Homo sapiens: one gene and its partners. The protein of the gene in region 1 interacts with the protein of each later gene in a biochemical or structural test. Each region holds a gene or a part of one and is shown in the gene's direction. Other genes may lie near its edges.

Evidence for each region.
Region 2: the proteins of RNF26 (region 1) and CCDC50 form a complex in vitro, tested with the Homo sapiens proteins (one large-scale study listed by BioGRID).
Region 3: the proteins of RNF26 (region 1) and CBR1 form a complex in vitro, tested with the Homo sapiens proteins (one large-scale study listed by BioGRID).
Region 4: the proteins of RNF26 (region 1) and TOM1L2 form a complex in vitro, tested with the Homo sapiens proteins (one large-scale study listed by BioGRID).
Region 5: the proteins of RNF26 (region 1) and MAP7D2 form a complex in vitro, tested with the Homo sapiens proteins (one large-scale study listed by BioGRID).
Region 6: the proteins of RNF26 (region 1) and KRT6C form a complex in vitro, tested with the Homo sapiens proteins (one large-scale study listed by BioGRID).
Region 7: the proteins of RNF26 (region 1) and TOLLIP form a complex in vitro, tested with the Homo sapiens proteins (one large-scale study listed by BioGRID).

The regions. Positions count from the first base shown.
Region 1 is NC_000011.10:119,333,229-119,337,326, forward strand, and holds RNF26 (E3 ubiquitin-protein ligase RNF26), read left to right. Parts: upstream 1-1,298; 5' UTR 1,299-1,894; coding exon 1,895-3,196; 3' UTR 3,197-4,081; downstream 4,082-4,098. UniProt on the Homo sapiens protein: E3 ubiquitin-protein ligase that plays a key role in endosome organization by retaining vesicles in the perinuclear cloud.
Region 2 is NC_000003.12:191,377,894-191,381,393, forward strand, and holds part of CCDC50 (coiled-coil domain-containing protein 50 long isoform), read left to right. Parts: intron 1-1,767; coding exon of another isoform or gene 1,768-1,781; exon of another isoform or gene 1,782-1,817; intron 1,818-2,265; coding exon 2,266-2,381; intron 2,382-2,793; coding exon 2,794-2,838; intron 2,839-2,934; coding exon 2,935-3,039; intron 3,040-3,500.
Region 3 is NC_000021.9:36,068,646-36,072,823, forward strand, and holds the start of CBR1 (carbonyl reductase [NADPH] 1), read left to right. Parts: upstream 1-1,378; 5' UTR 1,379-1,470; coding exon 1,471-1,759; exon of another isoform or gene 1,760-1,840; intron 1,841-2,304; coding exon 2,305-2,412; intron 2,413-3,169; coding exon of another isoform or gene 3,170-3,294; exon of another isoform or gene 3,295-3,800; coding exon 3,801-4,178. UniProt on the Homo sapiens protein: NADPH-dependent reductase with broad substrate specificity. Catalyzes the reduction of a wide variety of carbonyl compounds including quinones, prostaglandins, menadione, plus various xenobiotics.
Region 4 is NC_000017.11:17,867,901-17,871,400, reverse strand, and holds part of TOM1L2 (TOM1-like protein 2), read left to right. Parts: intron 1-1,927; coding exon 1,928-2,061; intron 2,062-3,500. UniProt on the Homo sapiens protein: Acts as a MYO6/Myosin VI adapter protein that targets myosin VI to endocytic structures. May also play a role in recruiting clathrin to endosomes. May regulate growth factor-induced mitogenic signaling.
Region 5 is NC_000023.11:20,008,908-20,012,407, reverse strand, and holds part of MAP7D2 (MAP7 domain-containing protein 2), read left to right. Parts: coding exon 1-59; intron 60-1,355; coding exon 1,356-1,605; 3' UTR 1,606-1,631; intron 1,632-3,500. UniProt on the Homo sapiens protein: Microtubule-stabilizing protein that plays a role in the control of cell motility and neurite outgrowth via direct binding to the microtubule. Acts as a critical cofactor for kinesin transport.
Region 6 is NC_000012.12:52,471,006-52,475,261, reverse strand, and holds the start of KRT6C (keratin, type II cytoskeletal 6C), read left to right. Parts: upstream 1-1,456; 5' UTR 1,457-1,524; coding exon 1,525-2,064; intron 2,065-2,981; coding exon 2,982-3,196; intron 3,197-3,529; coding exon 3,530-3,590; intron 3,591-3,745; coding exon 3,746-3,841; intron 3,842-3,965; coding exon 3,966-4,130; intron 4,131-4,256.
Region 7 is NC_000011.10:1,285,633-1,289,132, reverse strand, and holds part of TOLLIP (toll-interacting protein), read left to right. Parts: exon of another isoform or gene 1-237; intron 238-356; coding exon 357-509; intron 510-3,040; coding exon 3,041-3,131; intron 3,132-3,500. UniProt on the Homo sapiens protein: Component of the signaling pathway of IL-1 and Toll-like receptors. Inhibits cell activation by microbial products. Recruits IRAK1 to the IL-1 receptor complex. Inhibits IRAK1 phosphorylation and kinase activity.

The DNA.
Region 1 (4,098 bases):
CCAGGGCCTGAGAGCAGGGAGAGAGAAAGGGTAGGAAGAAGCCAGAGGAGTTTCAGCGACTGCAGTCCTTCCTCTGCACTATAGCGTACCCCTACCACGATCCCAAGGCCTCAGTAAAGGTTTGCTGCACACCTCAGCTTCTTATCAGTGATGCTTTGGAGAATGAAGGACTCTGAGGCAGTGTTCAGGGCAGACTGAAGGAGGACGGACACTTTCAGGAGCCCAGGAGTGGAGATGGAGAATTCAACTCAAGTAGGAAATTCAGCAAAGGTGACCAGGGGAAAGATAAGTCCACTAGGAGTCTGCTAAGCATCCTTGGAGTTAGTAGAAAACGCCAGGATTCCCAATATATTTGGGATGGGGTTTCAAATATATTTTGACTATTGTTTGAGTATTAAAGAAAAGGGCAGGGCCGGGCTTGGTGGCTCACGCCTGTAATCTCAGCACTTTGGGAGGCCGAGGCGGGTGGATCACGAGGTTCAGGAGTTCGAGGCCAGCCTGGCCAACATGGTGAAACCTCGTCTCTACTAAAAATACAAAAATTAGCCGGGTGAGGTGGTGGGCACCTGTACTACCCGGGAGGCTGAGGCAGGAGAATCGCTTGAACCCGGGAGGCAGAGGTTGCAGTGAGCCGAGATCGCGCCACTGCACTCTAGGGTAGGAAGGCCCAGGGTAGGAAGCTGAGCGGTTTCTAAATCTGTAGCCCCTTTTTCTCAATGACAATGAAGTAATCTTCCGAGATGTTGAAAAACCTGGTGAGGAAAGTTTGGAATAGCAGTTTGGGAATCCCCTGTAATAATCTGCTTTCCCTTGTGAACAGCAGGCACTGTCTTAAAATTTTTTTGTATCCTCAATGCACTGTAGGAGTTCAATAAATGATAGAATAGATGAATAAATAGAAGAGAATGAGGAGACGGATCTGGGCAGGCTGCGAAGGCGGTGCTATTCCAAAGCCCAGCCCAGAGGCAGTGACCTCCGACCCAAGCCAAAAAAAAAACCTCGCGTTCAGAGGCCGGGAGAAAGAACAGCTCCCAAATTGAGGGGAGTCCAAGACCCTGCTCTTTTAGAGGGTGGGGCTAGGAGAGCGTATTTCGACGCTGCCCGCCAACGAACCAATCCCCGCCTAAAGGGGGAGGGGATTTAATCTGTCGCCTCTCCTTCCCTTTGGAAAGTAAATACGTTCGGGCGCCATTCAAACGGACCAATGAGTGATCGACGTTTTTGTGGTTGGCCTTCACCGATTGGCTGGAGTTTGTCGTCCCTCCCTCCTCGTCACGCCTCTGGCTCCACCCCTTTGCACACAAGATGGCGGCGCCCAGCGGAGTAGGGGCTGCGCTTGGGGTTTGCTGAAGCTGGCTGCCTCTCCCACTCCCCTTTTGGGTGCAAAGCGCCGCTAGCGGGAAGACGGGGGCCGGGCGGGGACAGGGGCACCTGCGTAGCTGGACTGAGAGCCTGCGCCCAGCTTACATCGACCCCACCCGGCCCCGGCCCGACCCGACGCGACCCGATCCGATCCGATCCCATTCCATCCGTTCCTCGTCTCCTCCCGGTCTGACCCGTTGCCCGGCCGTGGTTCGCCACACCAGGCATCCAAAGCTGAGGTCGCTCCTACGGCCTGGGCTCGCCTTCGCTTTAGAGATGTTTGGCCTCTTCCCTCCCAAACAGCCCATCTTCAAAACCTGGACTCTTGGACTGGCACCTGGCCACCTTTCCCTCTACCAAGACTCCACTTCCGTCTTACCCACTTCTTCCTCAGATTCTTGGTACCCCCTGGGTTGGAGACTGCTCATTTTCCTTCCAAATTAATCCCAGACCCCCTAAAATATTGACAACCTTGACAACCCCCCAACCGAGGAGCCAGACTTTGTTTTGGACTAACTTCCATAGCCCTATCATGGAGGCAGTGTACCTGGTAGTGAATGGGTTGGGCCTGGTGCTGGACGTGCTGACCTTGGTGTTGGACCTCAACTTCCTGCTGGTGTCCTCCCTCCTGGCTTCCCTGGCCTGGCTCCTGGCCTTCGTCTACAACCTGCCGCACACGGTACTGACTAGTCTTCTGCACTTGGGCCGCGGAGTCTTGCTTTCATTGCTGGCCTTGATCGAAGCCGTGGTCCGGTTCACATGTGGGGGCTTGCAGGCCTTGTGTACTCTGCTGTATAGCTGCTGCTCTGGCCTAGAGAGCCTAAAGCTCCTGGGGCACCTGGCCTCTCATGGGGCACTGCGGAGCAGGGAGATACTGCACCGGGGCGTCCTCAATGTGGTCTCCAGTGGCCATGCTTTGCTGCGCCAGGCCTGTGACATCTGTGCCATTGCCATGAGCCTGGTGGCTTATGTGATCAACAGCCTGGTCAACATCTGCCTCATCGGCACTCAGAACCTCTTTTCCCTGGTGCTGGCCCTGTGGGATGCAGTGACCGGGCCTCTGTGGAGGATGACGGACGTAGTGGCTGCCTTCCTAGCCCACATTTCCAGCAGTGCTGTGGCCATGGCCATCCTCCTTTGGACACCCTGCCAACTAGCCCTGGAGCTGCTGGCCTCAGCTGCCCGCCTCCTGGCCAGCTTTGTGCTTGTCAATCTCACTGGCTTGGTGTTGCTAGCTTGTGTGCTGGCAGTGACGGTGACTGTGTTGCATCCGGACTTCACCCTGAGGCTGGCTACCCAGGCACTCAGCCAGCTCCATGCCCGGCCATCCTACCACCGTCTTCGAGAGGATGTCATGCGGCTCTCTCGCCTAGCACTGGGCTCAGAGGCCTGGCGCCGAGTCTGGAGCCGCAGTCTGCAGCTGGCGAGTTGGCCAAACCGGGGAGGGGCACCTGGAGCTCCCCAGGGTGACCCTATGAGGGTATTCTCAGTTAGGACCCGGAGACAGGACACTCTTCCTGAAGCGGGGCGCAGATCAGAGGCAGAAGAGGAGGAGGCCAGGACCATCAGAGTGACACCTGTCAGGGGCCGAGAGAGGCTCAATGAGGAGGAGCCTCCAGGTGGGCAAGACCCTTGGAAATTGCTGAAGGAGCAAGAGGAGCGGAAGAAGTGTGTCATCTGCCAGGACCAGAGCAAGACAGTGTTGCTCCTGCCCTGCCGGCATCTGTGCCTGTGCCAGGCCTGCACTGAAATCCTGATGCGCCACCCCGTCTACCACCGCAATTGCCCGCTCTGCCGCCGGGGCATCCTGCAGACCCTCAATGTCTACCTCTGAAGCCTCCTTCCCTGCCTGCCCACCCCTCCATGCTCCACGCAGGCACTCACGCTAGGACAGCATTAACACCTCATCTCCGGGTCCTGGTCTGAATCCCCTCCTACCCCTGTGGCCATCCTGCCATACATCCAGGACATTGAGTTGGAAGACTATGATCTGGGTGGGGGCAGGATAACATGGCTTCTCTTTACCCAGTGGGTCCCTTCGATGCTGAGGGTGGTGAGTATGTCACTATGCAAGGGCCCTGAGACTATTTGCTGTGGGCTCTCCTCCAGCCTGCCCAGGGCCCACCCAGATGCCTCTGGGGTTACCCCTGTCTGCTTCTGGTTTTTCTGTTGGAGATCTATAGGTCCTTTTCCTGCCTCCTTCACATTTCCTCCCCAGCTTTTGCGGCCACAACACATCAGTGTCATTTGGGTGTTTTGGCAACTCAGGGGCCTTCGGATGATCTTAAACCTTTGTGTTCAGCCAGAGCCCCTGTGCCCTGGTAGGCGTTGGGGTTAGTATCTCTCGGGTGCCCTCAGAGCCACCTCTGCCTGTGATCGTCTGATGAGGCTCCCTCCCAACCTGATCCAAAAGCCAGTCTCAGGAGTTTACCCCTGGGATGGGGGATGCATCTGCACCTGACTTTGGGGCCACGTGCCCTGTGGCACCCCAGCTCACTGGGAGTCTCAGGAGGGATAACCGGATTTCTGCTCTTTCCCCTGTCACTCCCACATCACACAGAAAAATGGCATTCCTCTCTGTCTCTCCCTGGCATGGAGAGGGCAGACTGTGCACATTTCACTAGGGTCCAAATACAGAAGGGCCCAGGGCCCAGGGGCTTGCAGCTTCGTGAGGGGTCTCTGGCCCAGTTTCCAATGAATAAAGTTCTCTTGACAGCTCTGACAGTCTCTGTGTGC
Region 2 (3,500 bases), on another chromosome or scaffold:
AGTTTCTAGAGTCTGTTTAGGATACTGAGATGAGGGAAGCTAGTCTGTTAATTTCCTTCAGTTAATTACATTTAAAAAATTTTTGGACATCTTTGTTTAATGACGGCCTTACACTGCACTGTGAGTTCTTTTTCTATATCCTTACAAAAATTTTTGTCACCTTGGGTCCAGAGGACACTGCAGAGAATGGGCATCCTGACAGTGCAGAAATTTAGTATTCCAGGCTGTGGAGATTTTCTACTTAATGAGATTTACAGATTCCAGTGATACATCAAGGGTTTAAATAAACCATTTCCCCTCTAAATATTTGGAACTGAGAGATATTACCTCAGATTCTGACTCTTACTAAGTCATCATTCTCTTTTTAACTGCCAGAGGTTACAGTCTTATCACCCTGTCAAAACAATTAGACTATTCAATGGAATATTGTCTTTGGTAGAATTTAAAACAATGTGTCTTTAATAAAACTGAAAGTGAAAAATCTTCTTGGCTAATTCTGTGGTGTACTTTAGGAGGCATAATAGTGGAGAAAATTTGGTCTCTTGAAATTTGAGCACATCCCACTGTATTATTTCACTGTATGGCAAAAGTGAAGGAGGTAGGCATGTTCTGTCATCCTTAATTAAGCTTTGGGCTGCTTATTGAAGTATCATTTTTTCTATAGATTGGAACATGGTTTATATAGCAGACTATCTTGTCCACTGACATTGCCCAGTACTGAGTTCCTTATCTAATTTCATTTTCTCTGAAATCTGCCTTCCTAGTTCTGACTAAGCTAAATAACTCAGGGAGATTTATATTCTATTTCAGATGGTCCACTCTTGGGACTATGCCACTGTTTTTTTGTTTGTTTGTTTGTTTGTTTTTGCTGTCCCAAACCACTTAGAAATCTAGATTAAGCCCAGCCCAGCATAAGACTCCGTGGCTCTAGAGTTGATTTGAAGTGATCTGTGCAATCAGGTTCTATTAGGTCTGAAGCTAAGAAAGCCATGTTTACTAGTCTGTCTTTGTAGGAAATACAGATGTGTATGAGTCTGTGGCTTCTGAAGCCGCAGAAGCCAGGTTGAAAGTTGTACAAAGGTGGGCTTCACAAAATACTTACATTCTCATCATTTGCCCAGTGTTTACTTGTATTTTATTTTTTTAAAGATTAACAGCAAGTGAGTCAAGTGTGGTGAGGGATTTTGACAAAAATCATTTTAATTTACAGTAATTTTAATGGACATAATACACTAAACAGGTGATGCCAATATTAATTGCAAGTAAGAATGAACTGGGGAGATTTAAAACAAACTTACTCAAGGACAGGGCACACCCAGGCTACTTAATTTAGAATCTGTGGGGGTTGGGGCAAATATTTTTATACGTGTTCAAAGCACCCTCATGTGATTCGAATATATAGCCCTGATTGACAACCCCTGGCATAAAGAGACAATCAGGAGTACATTTTCTTTCTCCTCTGAATAGTTAATTTACTGAAATGAACTATTTCAGATAAGTAATCTTGTTCACTGTATTCAAAATTTTTATTAATTCTGAATATAATACACTCACACTGTCAAGTAAAAGTTTAAAGCCAGAATTGCTTTATAGGAATAAATTGGAATAGAACTCTGGTCATTGTGCTCTCAATATAGCTCTGATTATATTTTCCCTAAGATGTCACAGTGCTATCAGTCTGATCAAAGCTGTGGGGAAGTTCTAAAGCGAGTGGGTTTATTTACTCTCAGAGGAAAAGCCATGGCAGGACCACTGCTTGTCTCACAGGTATTATCACATGACTGCCAGGTGCTGCTGTTCCTGCTCCCTCGGAAGTAGTAAGTATGCAGGCTGAGATAAATAGAAAGAAGCCTCTACTCTCCTCCAGCCTTGACAGCTTAGCCTCTTTTAAACTCTGACTCTGTAATTTGCTTTTCTTTAAATTATTTTTGTTTTCAATGACTTTTTTTTCACTTTGTATTTTTCCAGGGCCTCACTTGCAACTTCTTACATAAATTTCTGCTGTTGCAGAAACTATGTGAGAGGGGACTTTTTACCAGGCAGGCTTGCTTAGATATCTTTGTTTAAATGTATGCATTATCTACATTGCCACTTCCATTCCTAGGGCAAAAATATTTTTAATGCACCCCACACTGTATTCTGGAGTAGAGGTAGTATTGTCATTGTTAGCTACTAAAGAAAAATCTCCTTTATCTTAAATTTCTTAACTTTTCAGAAAACATCCTCGGTTGTTTTATTACATTGAGTTTTTTTTTTTTTTTAAAGGAATGAAGCCAAGAGTGATGAAAGAAGCTGTATCTACTCCATCACGAATGGCCCACAGGGATCAGGAATGGTATGATGCTGAAATTGCCAGAAAACTGCAAGAAGAAGAACTTTTGGTGAGCAAATTTTAAGGCAAAAGTTTAGATATATTGATGGGTATTTTTTTTGTGAATCTAGTCCATCTTGAAATTATATTAATAGTCCTCTATCAATTGAGAAACCTTTTTTTATGAGTGGAAAAATCATGACAATAGGAATAGAGTATCCACTTTTGCTTAGTGAGTAAGCATTAGCAGCAAAGTCCATAACTCCATTTCTCCATCTCCATGATTGTTCTCCATAACCCTGCTGTAGGATTTGATAAAAAGAGCTCCTGCTCTGGCTGGTGAAAGCATACCAACTGATTATCAACCTCAGGAACATGAGTCACAATTATTTTCAAAAACCAGCTTATTTTGTACAAGATACTGAAAATGCACAACATAGATTCCAATTAAATTCTTTGTTTTTGTATTTTCGATATCATAGGCTACCCAGGTGGACATGAGAGCCGCTCAAGTAGCTCAAGATGAAGTAAGTTAATGAGTTTAGCTGATATTCTTTGGAAATATCCTAGTATATTTCTATCTGCACCTCTGCAGTTAATGATATTGACTGTATTTTGTTTAGGAAATCGCTCGACTTCTAATGGCTGAAGAAAAGAAAGCTTACAAAAAAGCCAAGGAGCGGGAGAAATCATCTTTGGACAAAAGAAAGCAAGACCCCGAGTGGAAGGTAGAGTGTGTTTTGTTTGTTTTCTAATTAGAAATAAAATTAGAAATGAAAAGGGGACTCTGCTTTTGAGTTAAGCTCTGCAAATATATTTAGGATATATGAATATATAAATTATCTGTATTGCATATGTGAATCTGATCTGTGAAGATTCCATCACCATGAAAAATCACTGAATTTTGGAACATATGTAAAAAGTTACTGCTAAGATTGAAAACTCATTCTGTTCCCTTTAAGACGGAGTGAAATGCAAGTGCTTCTGGTCATGAACAGTCTTAGTTTTCATATACAGTACTTTGATTATAGAAGAATATAGCATTTTCACATGCTTTCATATTTTCCACAATGAACTTCTCTTCCCGTCTCTACTTTCTTTGTGCTTACATTATCTTTCATCTCTATCATGTATCCGTTTCTCTTTCCTTTGATGTAACATGGTTTGTGGCAGACTGAAAGATACATAC
Region 3 (4,178 bases), on another chromosome or scaffold:
CCAAGTAGCTGGGATTACAGGCGCCTGCCACCACACCCAGCTAATTTTTGTATTTTTTTTTTTTTTTTTTTTTTTTAGTAGAGATGGGGTTTCACCATCTTGGCCAGGCTGGTCTTGAACTCCTGACCTCATGATCCACCCACCTCAGCCTCCCAAAGTGCTGAGATTACAGGCGTGAGCCACCGCGCCAGGCCTGGTCTCTTTTGAATAAACAAATTGACCCTCCCAGTCTAAAAACTTGAGAAATTTACATTTGTCTTATCTGAGTTCCTTTCTCAGGGAACTAGCCATCAGTCCTCCCAGATAGCACCAAGGAACTGAAACTTATCGGATCACCACATCTGGAAAATCAGACACCAGACCCCTCACCTGCAACAATTGCCTGATGCCTGTTGACCCACTCCTCTTCATCTCTCCCTAACTCCTGCTATTTTCCCACATGCAGTTACATTTCTTCCCTGCTATATCCTAATTTTAATCAGTTGAGAAGATGGATTTGAGACTGATCTCTCCCCCCTAGGCTGTAGCACCCAAATAATGCCTTCTTCCCTGACAATAATGGGGTCTCAGTGACTGGCTTTCTGTGCTGTGAACCACCAGACCTAGACCAAACTCCTGGCATTTCTCTAACAATTTCCCACCACTGAACTAAGTTATAAATTCTGAGGATGGATCCCTGTTTCTTCATTTTAAGATGGGGATTAAAAGGTACATCCTAGAGTGTTATTGTCCGTGTAAAATAGGGCTGTGAAACCCCCTACACCTATGCACAGATAAACTGATGGCCCTGCAAATGCCCAGAGAAGTAACCTTATAAAGATTTAGTGAATGTTTCCCACCATTATTGGAAAATCTGGCTAAGTCAGTAGCTTTGTTTTCATATACTTAGGGGGAAAATCAACAAAAACTTGATGCCCTGTTATTTCCTTCCAGTTTCTTCTGCAACTCTAGCTCCAAAGACTGCAGTTCCTGCAGTATTTTTTTTTTTAGAACACCAGGAAAAAAAGAAAAAAAAACCATGCAAATGTACTATTTCTTCAAACACAACTAGGAATGATTGAACAGCTGGGAGAATATGAAGAAAACCCCTCAGAGAACCAAGGGCAAGCAGTGAGTTCAGATCTAGGCACATGGCCACTAGGAATGGTTCTTCACTGCCACGTGGGCAGCCAACAGCCAGTAGCTAGAGACCAGCCTCGGTCTTCGGCCTGCGGGTTCTGCAAAGTCAGGCTAGCTGGCTCTCCGCCTGCTCCGCACCCCGGCGAGGTTCCGGTGGGGAGGGGTAGGGATGGTTCAGCCCCGCCCCGCTAGGGCGGGGCCTGCGCCTGCGCGCTCAGCGGCCGGGCGTGTAACCCACGGGTGCGCGCCCACGACCGCCAGACTCGAGCAGTCTCTGGAACACGCTGCGGGGCTCCCGGGCCTGAGCCAGGTCTGTTCTCCACGCAGGTGTTCCGCGCGCCCCGTTCAGCCATGTCGTCCGGCATCCATGTAGCGCTGGTGACTGGAGGCAACAAGGGCATCGGCTTGGCCATCGTGCGCGACCTGTGCCGGCTGTTCTCGGGGGACGTGGTGCTCACGGCGCGGGACGTGACGCGGGGCCAGGCGGCCGTACAGCAGCTGCAGGCGGAGGGCCTGAGCCCGCGCTTCCACCAGCTGGACATCGACGATCTGCAGAGCATCCGCGCCCTGCGCGACTTCCTGCGCAAGGAGTACGGGGGCCTGGACGTGCTGGTCAACAACGCGGGCATCGCCTTCAAGGGTATGGGGAGGGGACGTGGCCTCCCCGAAGAAGAACCGATGCACTGGGGCTCCTGGCGTCTGCGGGGTCCATAACGCCTCCCTAGGGAGGAGAGGGAGGAGCTAGGAGATGCAGGGAGTGCAGAAACCTTGGAGAAAGTGAGAGTTTTCCAGCCAAAGGGAACTTTGTGTTTCCCTGGCTGGGACTCTTGGGGATCTTTTTCAGGTTTTCTGCAGTTTTTCTGAATTGAGCTTTAAGGCAACTGGATGGATTTTGAACTGATTTTAAAATAAACGACAAATTGCAAAAAGAAAAAATGGTTATGCCAAGATCCAGTGTGTGCACCCTTCATCCTCCTTCCCCCAATGGTGCCATCTTACAAAAATACTAGAACATGATCAAACCAGGAGATTGACATTGGCACAATACTGTAACCAGATACAGACTTACTTTAGGCAGAGGGCACTAAGTTTTTTTTTTTTTTTTTTTTTTTTTTTAGTATCATTGTATAGAATTTTACCCCATGGGTACAATGTATTAACTATGTTCTCTTTCTCTCCTAAAAGTTGCTGATCCCACACCCTTTCATATTCAAGCTGAAGTGACGATGAAAACAAATTTCTTTGGTACCCGAGATGTGTGCACAGAATTACTCCCTCTAATAAAACCCCAAGGTGAGTCTGATGGGAAACAGCGCACCTTCTCTTTGGGGCTTGATTTGGCCCCTGCTTGCCTGGGATTTCTCCTGCAGGCTCCTGCTTCCTCTCCATGCTGCACGTGCACTGACCTCTGTGCTTTTTCTCCTGCCAGCTGATATGTGCCATTTTGCCTCAGGACTTTGTCCTCACTTCTCCCACTCCCATGGCCATTCGTCCTCCCTGTCGCACTGGTCTTTGCACACCTGGCTGACTCTCATCCTTCAGGTCTTAGCTCAAACGTCTCCTGAGAGATGCTCTTTATTTGCTCCATTCCCCTCTGCGTGGGAGTCCATCCTGTACCCTTTCTCTGCTCTTTCAGAGAGATCTTATTCAGGCTGGTGGAGGCTTTACTACCACCAGTTCATTAGGCCCTTCTAATACCTGTCACCTGTCTGAAACACTCCTTAAGCTCCCAACCACATGGTTGTCTTGCTGCCTTTCCATCTCTTCCTGATGCCTTTCCCCACAATCTAAGATATTTCCAGAGGATCCCTATCCTTTTCCCTAAGTCGTTTGGGACACAGACCCCACCACCCACCCACCAGGATCCTGCAGGTCACCATGCCCCACCCCTCATAATCATTTACTAGGTCCTAGGAGTTGTGCCCACTGAGTTCCTCCTGAATCCGTCTCATTGCAGCTCTACAGCAGGCCCTCACCTGTCCCTCTGGACAATTGCAAACCCTCACAAGGCACCTCTGGTCTTGAGTCTTTTCCTCTTTTCCTTTCCCAGCATCCTGCGTACTGTCTGCATGGTCATGCCTCTCCCAAAATCCTTCAGGAGGAAAGTCCAAGCCCTTAGCATGGTTCACAGAGATGTCCATAATCTGCCGCTGCTTAACTCTGGGCCCATTTTAACTCCCCTTCAACGTGCTGAAGGTGCTGGACATGACTATCACATGTCTTTGGTTGTAAACTGCTGTGATAGTTACCCTAAGTAATGGGACAGGAGATGAACCCACCCATTAAATAACACAGCAATTAAGCAGCCACTTTTAGAAAAATTTAAATGTGTGGCTTCGAGTTGGGTACTTGCATGTACAGCTTACTCTCAGCTTTTATCCTGTTTCCCTGTCCTGTCGTCCTGTTAAGTTGTGCTACTTCTAAGGCTCTGGTTCACCAGGACCTCAAAGGGCAGCTCTTCCAAATCTCACCTGACTCTACTCAGCCAAAATTCGAAGGCAGGAATGAACTTCTTCATGCAACTACCACCACACTTTCTATGCGTATTCCTCTTAGAACTCATACCAGTAACTGTCTCTCATATGAAAATTTTCTGCTCCAAAATCCCTGCAAATTTGGCATTCACCTCTCTACGGGATTGTTGCACACCTTTCTACATAATGCTTTGTGGTGTATCTTAGGGAGAGTGGTGAACGTATCTAGCATCATGAGCGTCAGAGCCCTTAAAAGCTGCAGCCCAGAGCTGCAGCAGAAGTTCCGCAGTGAGACCATCACTGAGGAGGAGCTGGTGGGGCTCATGAACAAGTTTGTGGAGGATACAAAGAAGGGAGTGCACCAGAAGGAGGGCTGGCCCAGCAGCGCATACGGGGTGACGAAGATTGGCGTCACCGTTCTGTCCAGGATCCACGCCAGGAAACTGAGTGAGCAGAGGAAAGGGGACAAGATCCTCCTGAATGCCTGCTGCCCAGGGTGGGTGAGAACTGACATGGCGGGACCCAAGGCCACCAAGAGCCCAGAAGAAGGTGCAGAGACCCCTGTGTACTTGGCCCTTTTGCCCC
Region 4 (3,500 bases), on another chromosome or scaffold:
ACCGCACTTGGCCTCTGAATACTTTTTTTTGAGATGGAGTCTCGCTCTCTCTCCCAGTCTGGAGTGCAGTGGCGTGATCTCGGCTCACTGCAAGCTCCGCCTCCTGGGTTCACGCCATTCTCCTGCCTCAGTCTCCCAAGTAGCTGGGACTACAGGTGCCCGCCACCAACGCCCGGCTAATTTTTTGTGTTTTTAGTAGAGACGGGGTTTCACCGTATTAGCCAGGATGGTCTCGATCTCCTGACCTCGTGATCCATCCGCCTCGGCCTCCAATAGTTTTGGGATTACAGGCGTGAGCCACCACACCTGGCCCCGGCCTCTGAATACTTTAGAGTCATTAATTAATTCTCTCAGAAGTACTTGGGGAGAGCCTCCCATGTGTCATGGGTACCAGGGAAATACCTTCTCTGCCCTCAAGGAGCTTCAGTCTAGACGGGAGGGCAGATAAGAAGCCCAGCCCCTGTGTGAGTGCTGTGTTGCAGGATACCAGGGACATGCAGGGGGGATGCCTTTGATTCCCCACTGGCTGATTGACCACCTTGGTGATGTGTTCAGCAGATGATTACTGGGCTTTTTCACTGTGTGTGGCTCAGTGCGGGGCTTGAGGGCATCCTTGAGTGGATAAATGGTAACACCCCCTCAAGAGTTTATGATGTGGTAGGAAGGAAGACCCTGTAGCCAAGCTAGCAAGATTATGAGACAATATGAGGAACTAAAGAGAGATTGCCGTGTCTCCTGTGAATAAATCAGTTACTTCTACCAGAAACGGTTTCAAAATGAAGTCGTTTTGAGGCTGAGCTGTGAGAAGGAGAGACTTATCCTTCATGTCTTATCCCCTTAACTCACTGGCACCCTCCAGTGCCCAGGTAGGTGGGAACAGCATTTCCCTCTGCTTTAACCCTGTATGGCACACTGGGACTTGTAGCTTTGGTCACATGCTTGGGGGCCAGCCTGGCAGTGTTGCCAGCTCCCTCCTCTGTAGCATCCTCAGTCTGGCATCGAGATGGCAAGGGGCCTGGCAGGAATTGACGGAGCTCTGTAAGCAAGTTTGAACAAGGGCATCAGTAAGTCTGCTGTTCTGGAACAGGGAAGGCTCATGGAAGCCAGGCCATAAAGTGCTAAGGCTCTGTCGTCACGGGGATGTTGCTTCTAAGGGTAGAGAGGGCTCCAGGGGCAACCGGGGGTGTGCGAATTTCCTCTTTCGGCCAGCCAGGGAGCTGCCTGGGCTTCTGAGGTCTCGGCAAAGTGGCAGACGTGCCACCAAAATATACCTAATGCAGTCATAAAATACACTCCTGCTGTTGCTGGAAGTGTAAGTAAACTGATGTCATATTTTTGGAGGGCCTTTTACTATTACTAATTAATGTTATAAATGACCATACCCTTTCACCTAGAAATTTCCCTGCTAAGGAACCTGTCCTATGGAAGTGCTTGCCCAAGTGCATATGCATGTGTGTGTACAGGTGTTCATTGCTGCATTATTTAGGTTGGCCACAAAAAGAGAGACCACAATCTAAATGTCCAGCAATAGAAGAATGGCGAGATACATTATGAAACACACAGAAAGGAATGAGGCAGTCTGTACCAAGTGATGGAGAACGGTGTCTGGAATATTTTGTTGAGAAAAAGCAATCTGGAAAGAATCACATTTTAATATTTTTTAATGATTTGTACAAGCATGTACTTGTATACATACAACAGTATGTCTGGACATTTGTCTGCTGAAAAAGTACTTGTTTCCTCTGCGGAAGGAGGGGCAGGCAGTGAAGAGGGAACTTCTACTTTGAATTCGGCACATGTCTGGTTTTATGAACAAGCATGTACTCCTTTTGTGACTTTTAAGAATCAGTACAAATTTTTTCAAAGGAGATAGAATGTGACGAAAAGCACACCCAGCAGGCTACCCAGAGGTGCATGTGTTCCCTAGGAGCTCAACAGGACCTGTCGGGCCATGCAGCAGCGCATCGTGGAGCTCATCTCCCGCGTGTCCAATGAGGAGGTCACCGAGGAGCTGCTGCATGTGAACGATGACCTCAACAACGTCTTCCTTCGATACGAGAGGTGGGAGCCGGATTTCTTTTTTTTTTTTTTTCCCTTGAAAAGATTGTTGCCATAACAGAGGGATTTCTTTCATAAACAAAGGAAAGAGAGGGAGAGGGAGAGAGATTAGAGTTGGAAAATACTCATCAGAGATGCTAATTTGTTCCCGGCTGACAGGAAAAATGCTTCTTGTCCTCCTGGGAACTGAGCAGCAGAAGCAGCAGGAAGTTGACGTGCAGAATTAGGCTCTGCCCTTTGTAAGCCTCAGGCTGCTCTGCCTTTCCCCACTGCCCCGCCACCCCCAGCCCCAGGGAGGGGTAGCACTTGGGGGCCTCTGGGCCCCAGAGCTTCTGCACCTGCTCCTTTGATGATCCTTTGAATTTGAAAAGGATTAAAGGGAAAAAAAATCTCTAGTAAGAAAAAGGATTTCCTCTTTCCCATCTTAAAAAAAAAGAAAAAAGAAAAAAAGCTTTTCCCTTTGCAAATGTCAATGTTATCTAGAGCATTCAGGGGAAGCAGGCGGGTGTAAGTGCCGGAATGCTGCTGCTTAGGGAAGCGTGCACACATTCATTCCAGTTCTTTCTGCAGCCAAATCATTTTTGAGTTTGAGGTAACAAACCTGCAAATTCTTTTTCATTTCCAAAGCCTTCCCTCAGGACAAAGTCCAAAATGTCTTATTTAGACCTAGTTTTAAATAGGAGGAATAATGGCAAGCACAGTTCCCATCTCATCACCTGATGGGAGCACACTGGGCTTTCATGAAGGACTCAGCATAAGGACCAGAAAGGACCATGATCAGGCCAACCTTTTCCCCTTAAAGATGAGGCTTGAGAGGACAGGACAGTGGCTTGAGTCCCCTGCAGATTTAAGGTCCTGGTCCCCTCTGCCGCACCAGCTGACTCACAACCTACTGCTGGATTCATCAGGAGGACAAGGACCTGGCATCAGTTAGGGTGAGTGGGACAGATGCTTGCATTTGCGTTACCCTTTGGGGACCTAAAGGGTGATTTTGTTATGGCTGTCACAGCCTTGGGCCTTGTCTCATCTTTTGACTACGGAAGTACACACCAGTGGCTCTGTGCCCACCTGACAGGTGAATAAACCTCTGCAGTAAGTGTGGGGGCATCCCCAGGACCCCCCAGTGCATCAGTTGGAGAACAGGAGCAGATATAAGGGGACCTGACTCCCAGCCCGAGGCCCCTTTGTCTTGCCATGTGATTCCAGTTTCTCCATGGTAAATGGGCTTGGGTTTAACCTATTAAACCTATTTAAGCCCTGCTAGAAAGCATAACAGGAGCTAACTAATATGAGTATTTTCACCCAAGAGTCTCCCAGTCCAAGCATTACACATAATTCAGAGGCAAAGCCTGGGGCTGGTGGCTGGAAGTGCTATCCTGGTTAGAGTGTCTTTGATGATACTCATTGTTCATTGAAGATGAGTGTGGGAAAGGTACCCCAGG
Region 5 (3,500 bases), on another chromosome or scaffold:
GATGGGAAATCAAATAGCCTGGATGATTCAACTGAAGAAGTTCAGTCTATGGATGTGAGGTATATTCATTTCTTTTGCATTTAAGCCTCATCACTTCTCGAAACACTACCCTTTCTTTTAGTTGGTTTCTTCGTCTTTTATACAACCAAATCACCTAAAGCAGGTTTGATTGACATTACAGGAAAGCTCTCAGTGGTATAACATTCTAGTGTCTTGCGTCAGGTTCCCTAGAAGCAGAGCCTGGAACAGAGTTTCTAGGGCATGTGATTTGTTAGAGGAAAGCTCTTGGGAGTTTTTCAGGAGAAAGGGGAAGGAGGGAATTCGCTAAGCAAGGATGCCTTCTCAGCTGACCCCATGGGAGCTCTGGAGGATGAATTTCCACCAGAGACAGTTCCTCTGAGCTTCTGCAGTTCTGGTTTTTCTAGATTCTTCTCTAAGATCTCACAAGGAAGAAAAAGAAGAACCTGGCAGCAGCTTTACTCTGGCTGTTAAGAGATTCCTGGTGACAGGCCCTCAGCCCACCACTCTTCAGAGCCTGGATTTGTTCCTTTGCTAGGCCTTACAGCTGGCGCAATTATGAAACTCCTCCTTCCATCTCTAGGGAGAGGAAGAGAGAGAGAGAAAGAAAACCAGCCTTGGCTGGGCTGGAGCTGGATAAGTCAGAGTGGATTGGAAGCCTCACTTTAGAGAGGAAGCAGAGCGTGAGATTGGCTTTGCCAGTGATGACGTGGGCTGTGGTGGGATCCTTTCATTATGGGCCCCCCAACCTTAACTGAGCACTTCAGGCGTTTCCACATGAACTCTTCTCAGCACGATCAGATTCACACTCACAGGAGCCCTGGCAGAGAGAAACAATTGTTCCCATTTTACTGGCGAAGAAACTGAGGCTGCAGGAAGGAAAAGCAATTCGCCCAAGGTGGCACTACTAGAAAGGCAGCACTGGGAGCCCCACTGTTAATTAGGGTTCTTCTTCAACTTGCTTTGAACTTTTGGCATTGGCTTTCTGTCTGAATGTCCCATTTAGAAAGTTCTGGAATGCCTTGCTTCTTTGTGGTAGAATGCTGGTGCCTGTGGGTTTTTGTCCTTTCACCCTTTGGGCAATGTGACCTTGGCCATCACAGCCCTGCTCAATCTGCTTCCCTGTTCTCATACATGGGGCCTCGTGTCCACCATCTGTCCTCCTCAGATTTGAGCCCACTTGTATTTTTTACAGTGTGTTACACAAAAACTCTGACTCTAAATCCTTCTTCTTTAGAAGAGTAGTAAAACAAAATATTGCAAATAGAATTAATATATTGTGCCATGTTGTCTGTCTGTCTCTTTCTGCCTCTCTCCCTCTCGTTCATCTCTTCTAGTCCTGTTTCAAAAGAAGAGCTTATCTCTATCCCGGAATTTTCACCAGTGAGTGAAATGATTCCTGGGGTGTCTCTGGACCAAAATGGAACTGGTAATGCCCGAGCACTTCAAGATCTCTTAGATTTCACTGGTCCCCCGACATTCCCCAAGAGATCCAGTGAAAATCTCAGCCTGGACGACTGTAACAAAAACCTTATCGAAGGATTTAACAGTCCTGGCCAAGAAACTCCTCTCAACACCTTCTGTTGACAAATACAGCATCCCTTTAATAAAAGGTACAGTCTTTTGATTATATTCTAACTTCATAACCCTTTAACTGGGGTTTGTGAAGATAGGATGTATATCACTCAGCCTCTTGGATGGTCAAATTTTATTTGAAAAACGCAAACATGAATATATTATGGTATACTACAACACACACAAGAATTGAGACAGATTTCAATTAATTCATCTGCGAGCCTTCAGCGCCGAGCCGCCTTGTCCTAACCCTGCTATTTAGGGTGTGTAGATGGGAAAGTTGAGAACACTGGCTAAAGGTTTGACTACCAGTCCAGCCTGAGTAGCTTTTTTAGGGGGCAAGGAAAGAATACTCTAGTAGTGTTGCAAGGTGATATGAATAAGATGAATTTCCCCACCTCTAGTTTTGCTCAGTGACATCCCACATTCTATCTAGAATCATTCATATACAGGGCCACAGGATTTGCTATTCTCTTGACCCATTCTGGATTCTTCCAAAGCAGACAGCTATTCTTGGATCATACCTGAGGGAGAGAGAACTGCAGTTTTTGTGTCTTGAAGGTTTTTTCCCCACCTTTGGCCTTTTTTTATTTTTGCCAAAGTGCTTCCAGAAGCTATTCTCATTTGAGCAAGAATGTCTATGAGTTATATACACTCTGTAGTAAGGTATACTTAGTTACATATACCTCACATTTTATTTACTTCAGTTTGGGGCTTGTTTTTGAATAAGGAAAACATAATTAGAGTCTGTCACCAAATCCTTTAATAATTTAATAATTCCAATTGCTCCTCCCACTTCAGATTCTGTTTTTGTTTTCAAGAGAAGTGATCTCACTCTGTTGTCCAGGCTGGTGTGCAGTGGCGCAATCACAGCTCACTGAGACTTCAAACTCCTGGGCTCAGGAGATCCCCTTGCCTCAGCCTCCTGAGTAGTTGGATCATAGGCACATGCCACCAGGCCCAGCTAATTTTTTTTAGTTTTTGTAGAGGTTGGGTCTTGCTATGTTGCCCGGCTGGTCTTGAACCCCTGGCCTCAAGTGATCCTCTCTCCTTGGCCTCCCAAGTACTTACTGGGATTACAGCCATGAGCTACCATGCCTTGCATCCATTTATCCATTTTAGATTCTTTTTTTTTTTTTTTTTTTTTTTTTGAGATGGAATCTCACTCTGTCACCCAGGCTGGAGTGCAGTGGCATGATCTCCACTCACAGCCACTTCTACCTCCCAGGTTCAAGCCATTCTCCTGCCTCAGCCTCCCGAGTAGCTGGGACTACAGGTGCACGCCGCCATGCCTGGCTAATTTTTTGTATTTTAGTAGAGACAGGGTTTCACTGTGTTGCCCAAGCTGGTCTCGAACTCCTGAGCTCAGGTAATCTGCCTGCCTTGGCTTCCCAAAGTGCTAGGATTACAGGCGTGAGCCACCGCGCCCGGCCATTTTAGATTCTTAAAAGCATTTTTATATTCTCGGCATTTTCTCAGTCACTTTATTTTTTATACTTCACTCCCATAACAAATTCACTGGCCAAAATAACAGTCCAGTGTTTTTATTTTTCAAATGAGGAAACAGGTGGGAGAGGCTACAGAGCTGAGGTCACTGTGTTTTTTGTATACTTGTTTCTACCTGACCTCAGCTCTTGCCTATAAGACAAGTTTGAGAGCCCATTTCTCTTGGTTCTTGGTGTGTGGTGGGTCACTTTTAGAGTAAACTGTATCACTGGTTTGGAAAAGCAGCTGCCTTCTTGGACACTTAAAACACTAAATCACCTGAGCATTCTATTTCCCTGACAGTTACGTGGCTTAATATTTATTAAGAGGTTTTTTGTGTTTTTAACATACTTTGACTTTAAAATTAGTTTCCCTTCAGTTCACTTACCTCACTATACAGTAAGGAACAGAGAATCCACAAA
Region 6 (4,256 bases), on another chromosome or scaffold:
GCCCGGCCAATTTTCAGTATTTAAATAGGCATTCTACTACATCCACATCTGGAAAGTCTAAGTATATGAGAGTCTTATTAAGCTTCAAGTTTTAATGATCAGTTTGCAGGAAATATAGAGGACACAGTAGCATCTTAAATGAAACACTGTGAGTAAGCAATGAGGAAATCCCAAAGACTGAAACACTACTCAGGACAATTAACCTGGTCTTATCAACAAAAGAATTGTAAACAATAAGGAAATAAATGAAAAAGGACATTGGAGAATTGAATAGACACATTGATGTTAATAAATACACAAATTGGCTGGGAGCAGTGGCTCATGCCTGTAATCCCAGCACTTTTGGAGGCTGAGCCAGGTGGATCACCTGAGGTCAGGAGTTCGAGACCAGCCTGGCCAACATGGCGAAACACCATCTCTACTAAAAATACAAAAAATTAGCCGTGCTTGATGGTGGCCACCTGTAATCTCAAACTACTCAGGAGGCTGAGGTGAGAGAATCTCTTGAACCTGGGAGGCGGAGGTTGCAGTGAACCTAGATCGCACCACTGGACTCCAGCCTGGGTGACAGAGAGAGACTCTATCTCAAAAAAAAAAGAAAAAAAATTACCCTTCCCCACTGTCCCCTCTACACCCCCTCTCTATGCTCTTTTCTTCCTAGTAAAGCATTACTTTCTTTCTAGCTCAGTGATGCCACTGGATGTGATGTCTTCTATCTCCTTTTGTGTTGTCATCTTTATTAGAGTCAACTCCTTGAGGGCGAAGACTTAATAAATACATACATTTTTAAAATACAAAATAATATTTCAGTTATATTTCTAAAAGGTCTATCATTTAAAGATTAATATTGAATTAATATTGAATTAAATCCCAAATATTTTTGGGATTTAAAAAAATTTAACATTGATAAGGGAACCGGGTGGAAATATACAAGAAATAAGACTGGCCATAAGGTAATCATCATGGAAACAGGTAATAGGTATATACAGGCCCATTGTGTTCTGCTCCTCTACATGTTTGAAATTGCACACAGAAGGAAAAATAATTACAGGAAAAATGTTAATATTTCTGTTAAGGCATTTGCAATACAGTGCTTGTGATCTCCAACATCTCTGCTGGAAGAAAGTCAGGCTGGAAAGAGGAAAGCACTCACAGCATGTTGATAAACAGCCTAGCATGCAGAACCTTTGCTGAAGACAGTGACTAACTTCAACTTCATGAACTGAGAATGCTCTTACTGTGCTGAAATCTCGAGTCAAAGCTGGAGGCAGGAACATTTTCCCTGACTAAAGGAAGTGAAAAATGCCATCTCAGCATTTCATAACTTTTCTGATCCAGGTGTGATCTCACTATTTGTAAAGCCCAGCCCTTCCCAACCTGCAAGCTCACCTTCCAGGACTGGGCCCAGCCCATGCTCTCTCATAATATATAAGCTACTGCTGGAGCCCGATTCCTTGTCCTGCTTCTCCTGCCTCTCGCCTCCAGCCTCCAACGCTCGCCACAGCCCTCTCATCTCCTGGAACCATGGCCAGCACATCCACCACCATCAGGAGCCACAGCAGCAGCCGCCGGGGTTTCAGTGCCAACTCAGCCAGGCTCCCTGGGGTCAGCCGCTCTGGCTTCAGCAGCATCTCCGTGTCCCGCTCCAGGGGCAGTGGTGGCCTGGGTGGTGCATGTGGAGGAGCTGGCTTTGGCAGCCGCAGTCTGTATGGCCTGGGGGGCTCCAAGAGGATCTCCATTGGAGGGGGCAGCTGTGCCATCAGTGGCGGCTATGGCAGCAGAGCCGGAGGCAGCTATGGCTTTGGTGGCGCCGGGAGTGGATTTGGTTTCGGTGGTGGAGCCGGCATTGGCTTTGGTCTGGGTGGTGGAGCCGGCCTTGCTGGTGGCTTTGGGGGCCCTGGCTTCCCTGTGTGCCCCCCTGGAGGCATCCAAGAGGTCACCGTCAACCAGAGTCTCCTGACTCCCCTCAACCTGCAAATTGACCCCGCCATCCAGCGGGTGCGGGCCGAGGAGCGTGAGCAGATCAAGACCCTCAACAACAAGTTTGCCTCCTTCATCGACAAGGTGAGCCAGTGCCATGCCCTCCATCGGGCACTTCAGGGTCCCCAGACCAGAAGAGCAACACCTTCCTGCTAGGGAGACCTAGGAGGGAGGGAGAAGGGGATTCAGCCCAGCTCTGCAGAGAGTGCAGGTGGCTCTCGGTGCACAGGAGGCAGCACAGATGGGCATCACTCCCCCATGGGATCTCTGGAGTGGCCCTCACTCCTGCCTAGGGAGAGCCGTAACTTTTCATAACCCTGAAGCACAGATGAGGCCATCAGAGAGTGGAGTAGGTTAATTCTCCCCTCTGAAGTGTTTAAGAGATTACAAAGCAAATGCCAGGAGTATATGGGCTGGTAAATTACACTCTGGGGTCTGGGTAAGAGGAAAAAGATTTAGAAAGAAAAGGAAAAGATAATCTGGCTGGATTAAGAAAAAAAGGGACATAGAAACAACTGTAAAACATGGATAAATGCTAATTAATTTTAAAAACAGAGAATGACCATAACATCAGAATATTTGAGAGGAGACACTAAATGGGAAAGTAGACTGAAATGTAATCATGAGTCAACATATAATATCTCTCCTAACTAAGATCCTATCAGTAAAAAAACTGTGTACAATATATCAGGTAATTAGTATTTTTAAACTAGATTTGTGATTGTGCCTGGAAAAAGAAGAGAAGAAATGTTGAAACTCACTGATGATCAATAGCTTACAGCGTGAGAACACCTCAATGGTCCATGGGACAATTTCTCTAGTGAGACTGGTGGGGTGCAAAGGAGAAGGGGTTGGGGGAGCAGAGCTCAGCCTGAGCCTCTCCACATGCACTGTAGTAGCCCAGCACCATGGGGACCTCCAAGACCTGCCAGGAAACTGGATACCAGACACTTTTTCTTCCTTCCTTTGCCTGGAAAATGACCATCTTGCTTCCCTTCCAGGTGCGGTTCCTAGAGCAGCAGAACAAGGTTCTGGACACCAAGTGGACCCTGCTGCAGGAGCAGGGCACCAAGACTGTGAGGCAGAACCTGGAGCCGTTGTTCGAGCAGTACATCAACAACCTCAGGAGGCAGCTGGACAGCATCGTCGGGGAACGGGGCCGCCTGGACTCGGAGCTGAGAAACATGCAGGACCTGGTGGAGGACCTCAAGAACAAGTGAGGACTCCATTTCCTGCAGCACACACTTCAAGACTATTGGGTGACCAGGGCCAGATGTGTGTAGGATTCCTAACAACCCATGTCCATGGAAATGAAAAGCACAAATTAGTCCCTAGGAGCAAACCTGCAAGAACCACAGATGGTTATGGGAGGATGGGGGGATTAAAGAAGTGGCAAATTTAGTAGTAGCAAAACTCATCTCTTTGGCTCTCTGTGGCAGGAAAGCTCAATTAGAATATATTCCATTCAGGAAATTGTTGAATCCCAAGCTGCTTTTCTGTTTCATCCTACCCACTGGCTCATATGTGTCCTATGCCTTTCTTCCTGTAGATATGAGGATGAAATCAACAAGCGCACAGCAGCAGAGAATGAATTTGTGACTCTGAAGAAGGTGAGCAGATGAAGCCGGGGGTTCAAATTCATTTAGAAGGAGAGAAGTGGCTCTGTGTCCTCGCTCCCCTGGGAGAGAATTGGCAGGAGGACTAGAAGATGGGTAGATTGGAAAGGTGAGCTCAGGTAACTCCAGGTTGTTGGCTCTTTCCCCAGGATGTGGATGCTGCCTACATGAACAAGGTTGAACTGCAAGCCAAGGCAGACACTCTCACAGATGAGATCAACTTCCTGAGAGCCTTGTATGATGCAGTAAGCATCTCCACCATCCTTCTGTTTACTCTGATGGGGTCTGCAAAGGGGAGAAGATGTATAGGGTTGGGTATCTCTGTAAATGTCAGATGTGAAGTTGATCTTATGACCTTCTGTTCTGCAGGAGCTGTCCCAGATGCAGACCCACATCTCAGACACATCCGTGGTGCTATCCATGGACAACAACCGCAACCTGGACCTGGACAGCATCATCGCTGAGGTCAAGGCCCAATACGAGGAGATTGCTCAGAGGAGCCGGGCTGAGGCTGAGTCCTGGTACCAGACCAAGGTGAGCAGGGAGTGGGCAGCTGCTGAGGAATCCTTGTGTCCATCCTGGAATACCAGAGGACTGCAGACTTCACTGGGGACATCCCCTGACAGGAAGCTGGGGTCCTCTCACAGGACATGCACTCTG
Region 7 (3,500 bases), about 120 Mb from region 1:
AGCCGGTGGAGCAAGGATGGGGCCCCGAGGGCTGGGGAGGAGCAGCCAGTGTCCCTGAAGTGGAACTGAAGGAGGACAGCAGCCCAGGGCCCTCGCTTTCCCCAGCCCCAGACCTGGCCCTGGCCCTGGCCCTGGCCCATCCTGGTGGAGAGAGGGAAGAAGTCCCCTACGGAGGCTGATATACGATCGTGAAGCCTGCGCTGCCCGAGGGGTCTCATCGATGGGGTGTTGGTGCAGGTGGGAGCCCTGTTCCACAGATAAGACGGGGACTCGAGGCGGGCCCACGATGGTGCGGCTGCAGGGGCAGGGTGGCCCCTTCCCTGATGCCTGGGGCCTCTCCCTCTTGTCTCCCGCAGAGAGCCTTCTCCATGGACGACCGCATTGCCTGGACCCACATCACCATCCCGGAGTCCCTGAGGCAGGGCAAGGTGGAGGACAAGTGGTACAGCCTGAGCGGGAGGCAGGGGGACGACAAGGAGGGCATGATCAACCTCGTCATGTCCTACGCGGTGAGCTGCACGCCTGGGCGGGGTGGGGCGCATTGGGGTATGTTGGAGCACGTCGGGGCTATGCCGCCCCACAGACACCCTTGTCTCTTTCCTGGAGGCACTGAGCCCATAAAACAGCAGGGCTCACGTTCTGAGGACAGAGGGCAGGGGCCCTGGGTGGTTTGGTGGCAGAGAGGGGCTGCCCTGCCCACTGCTCCTGCCCATGTTCTCTGTCTGGGGAAACAGCATAGGGGTTGTTTGTGTTCCTAAGATGAGCCAACCCTTTGTGGTGGTCTCCACTGCAGGCCCCTGTGTCCTCGGAGGACCCCCACAGCCCTTCCAAGCTCTGCCCTTAGGGTCCAGCTGAGCAGCCCTCCAGGGTCTGAGATACAGCCCTGGGCCCTGCAGGACACCAGGCTCCTCCCCACAGGGCAGGCATTGGCCGTGGTGTGGCAGGGCATCTCTGGAGATGTCGGGGAAGCCTGGGGGCTGCTGTGCTCAGGGTCAGGAAGTCGAGGCCTGGCTGTGGGGCCAGCACGTCAGCGCCCTGGCTCCCAGCCATCTCCATTCTCAGGGCACCTGCAGCTCCTGGGGGCATCAGGAGGGCCAGTTAGAGGCTCCAAGACGCAGAGCTCCTGCCGTCTCGTCTGTATCATCAACCAGAGGATTTTCAGGCTGTTACTGAAAAATGGTGCTGTGGGAAATGCCAGGCAGATGTGACAGCAGAGAGGGTGCAGCAGAGAGGGTGCAGCAGGGAGGGTGCAGCAGGGAGGCTGCAGCAGAGAGGGTGCGGCAGGGAGGCTGCGGCGGGGAGGGTGCGGCGGGGAGGCTGCGGCGGGGAGGCTGCGGCAGGGAGGGTGCGGCGGGGAGGCTGCGGCGGGGAGGGTGCGGCGGGGAGGCTGCGGCGGGGAGGCTGCGGCAGAGAGGGTGCAGCGGGGAGGCTGCGGCGGGGAGGCTGCGGCGGGGAGGGTGCGGCGGGGAGGCTGCGGCGGGGAGGGTGCGGCGGGGAGGCTGCGGCGGGGAGGCTGCGGCGGGGAGGGTGCGGCGGGGAGGCTGCGGCGGGGAGGGTGCGGCGGGGAGGCTGCGGCGGGGAGGCTGCGGCGGTGAGGCTGCGGCGGGGAGGCTGCGGCGGGGAGGCTGCGGCGGGGAGGGTGCGGCGGGGAGGGTGCGGCGGGGAGGCTGCGGCGGGGAGGGTGCGGCGGGGAGGCTGCGGCGGGGAGGGTGCGGCGGGGAGGCTGCGGCGGGGAGGCAGCAGCAGGGAGCTGCTTTTCTGGGCCATCTTGGCTCCTCCCACCCCCTTTTTGTTAAAGCTGGGATATTTTAAATCATGTCCCGGCCGTGAGTGACGATGTGTAAATGTCTCATGACACGTCTTTAACAGACGCTTTCATACAAACACAGAACCATCATGACGCTCCAGTGATTTTACCTGCAGTTGACAGTTTCGAACTCAGAGACGACAGTGGTGCAGTGACTTATCCGCAGTTGACAGTTTCGAACTCAGAAGACAGCGGTGCAGTGACTTATCCACAGCTGACAGTTTTGAACTCAGAGACGGCAGCGGTGCAGTGACTTATCCGCAGCTGACAGTTTTGAACTCAGAGGCGACAGTGGTGCAGTGACTTATCCGCAGCTGACAGTTTCGAACTCAGAGACAACCGCGGTGCAGTGACTTATCCACAGTTGACAGTTTTGAACTCAGAGACAACAGCAGTGCAGTGACTTATCCGCAGTGGACAGTTTTGAACTCAGGAGACAGCAGTGCAGTGACTTATCTGCAGTGGACAGTTTTGAACTAAACTCAGAGACGACAGCAGTGCAGTGACTTATCCACGGTTGACAGTTTTGAACTCAGAGACAACAGCAGTGCAATGACTTATCCGCAGTGGACAGTTTTGAACTCAGGAGACAGCAGTGCAGTGACTTATCCACAGTGGACAGTTTTGAACTAAACTTAGAGATGACAGCGGTGCAGTGACTTATCCACAGTTGACAGTTTTGAACTCAGGAGACAGCAGTGCAGTGACTTATCCGCAGTGGACAGTTTTGAACTAAACTCAGAGACGACAGCGGTGCAGTGACTTATCCGCAGTTGACAGTTTTGAACTCAGAGGTGACAGTGGTGCAGTGACTTATCCACAGTGGACAGTTTTGAACTCAGAGTTGACAGCAGTGCAGTGACTTATGTGAAGTTGACACTTTCAAACTCAGACACCACAGCAGTGCAGTGTGGTTCCCCCCAGGCCGACTCGACACCTACACTGGGATGTCCCTCCTGTCACCATCCTCTCTCAGTCACATCCCAGTTAGAAGGGGGTCTGTAAGCCCGAGCCATGTCACCTCCTGGATTTGAGGAGGTGGTGCAGGGGTGGGAGCAGGGCCCAGCGTCCCCTGTGCACTCAGGGCTCGTGTAGCGAGGGTGATTCTGGGCTGGCATGGGGAGGGCGATTCTGGGCTGGCGTGGGGAGGGCAATTGTGGGGAGGGCGATTCCCGAGGTTCTGATGGGTGGATGTTCCTCCTTGACCCCGGGACCATCTCCGCTGTGTTTCAGCTGCTTCCAGCTGCCATGGTGATGCCACCCCAGCCCGTGGTCCTGATGCCAACAGTGTACCAGCAGGGCGTTGGCTATGTGCCCATCACAGGTGCGTGTGCTCCCTCCCTGGGTGCCTCTCCCCTGGTAGAAACCCCAGGGCCTAGGGCAGGTGCGGGAGGAGGGAACGGGGCTTAGAGCGCCGGGGTGGGGACGTCATCCATTCTAGAATCCTGTAGACGTGCTGACCGCACACAGATCCTTTCAGGCCAGGAAGCCAAGGCTTACGTTTGAATTTTGTTTGCATATCTAGAAAATAGAATTGTTTTTTTTTTTTTTTTCTAATTGTTGGCAGAAATGAGGTGAGTTGAAATTTTCAGAGATGTGGAAATGTGGCTTTGAAACCCCGTTGTGCCCAGCTCTGTGCAGGAGAACCTCACGCCCCTGTCAGGTGACACGTGCTCTGCACTGTGCCGTCGTG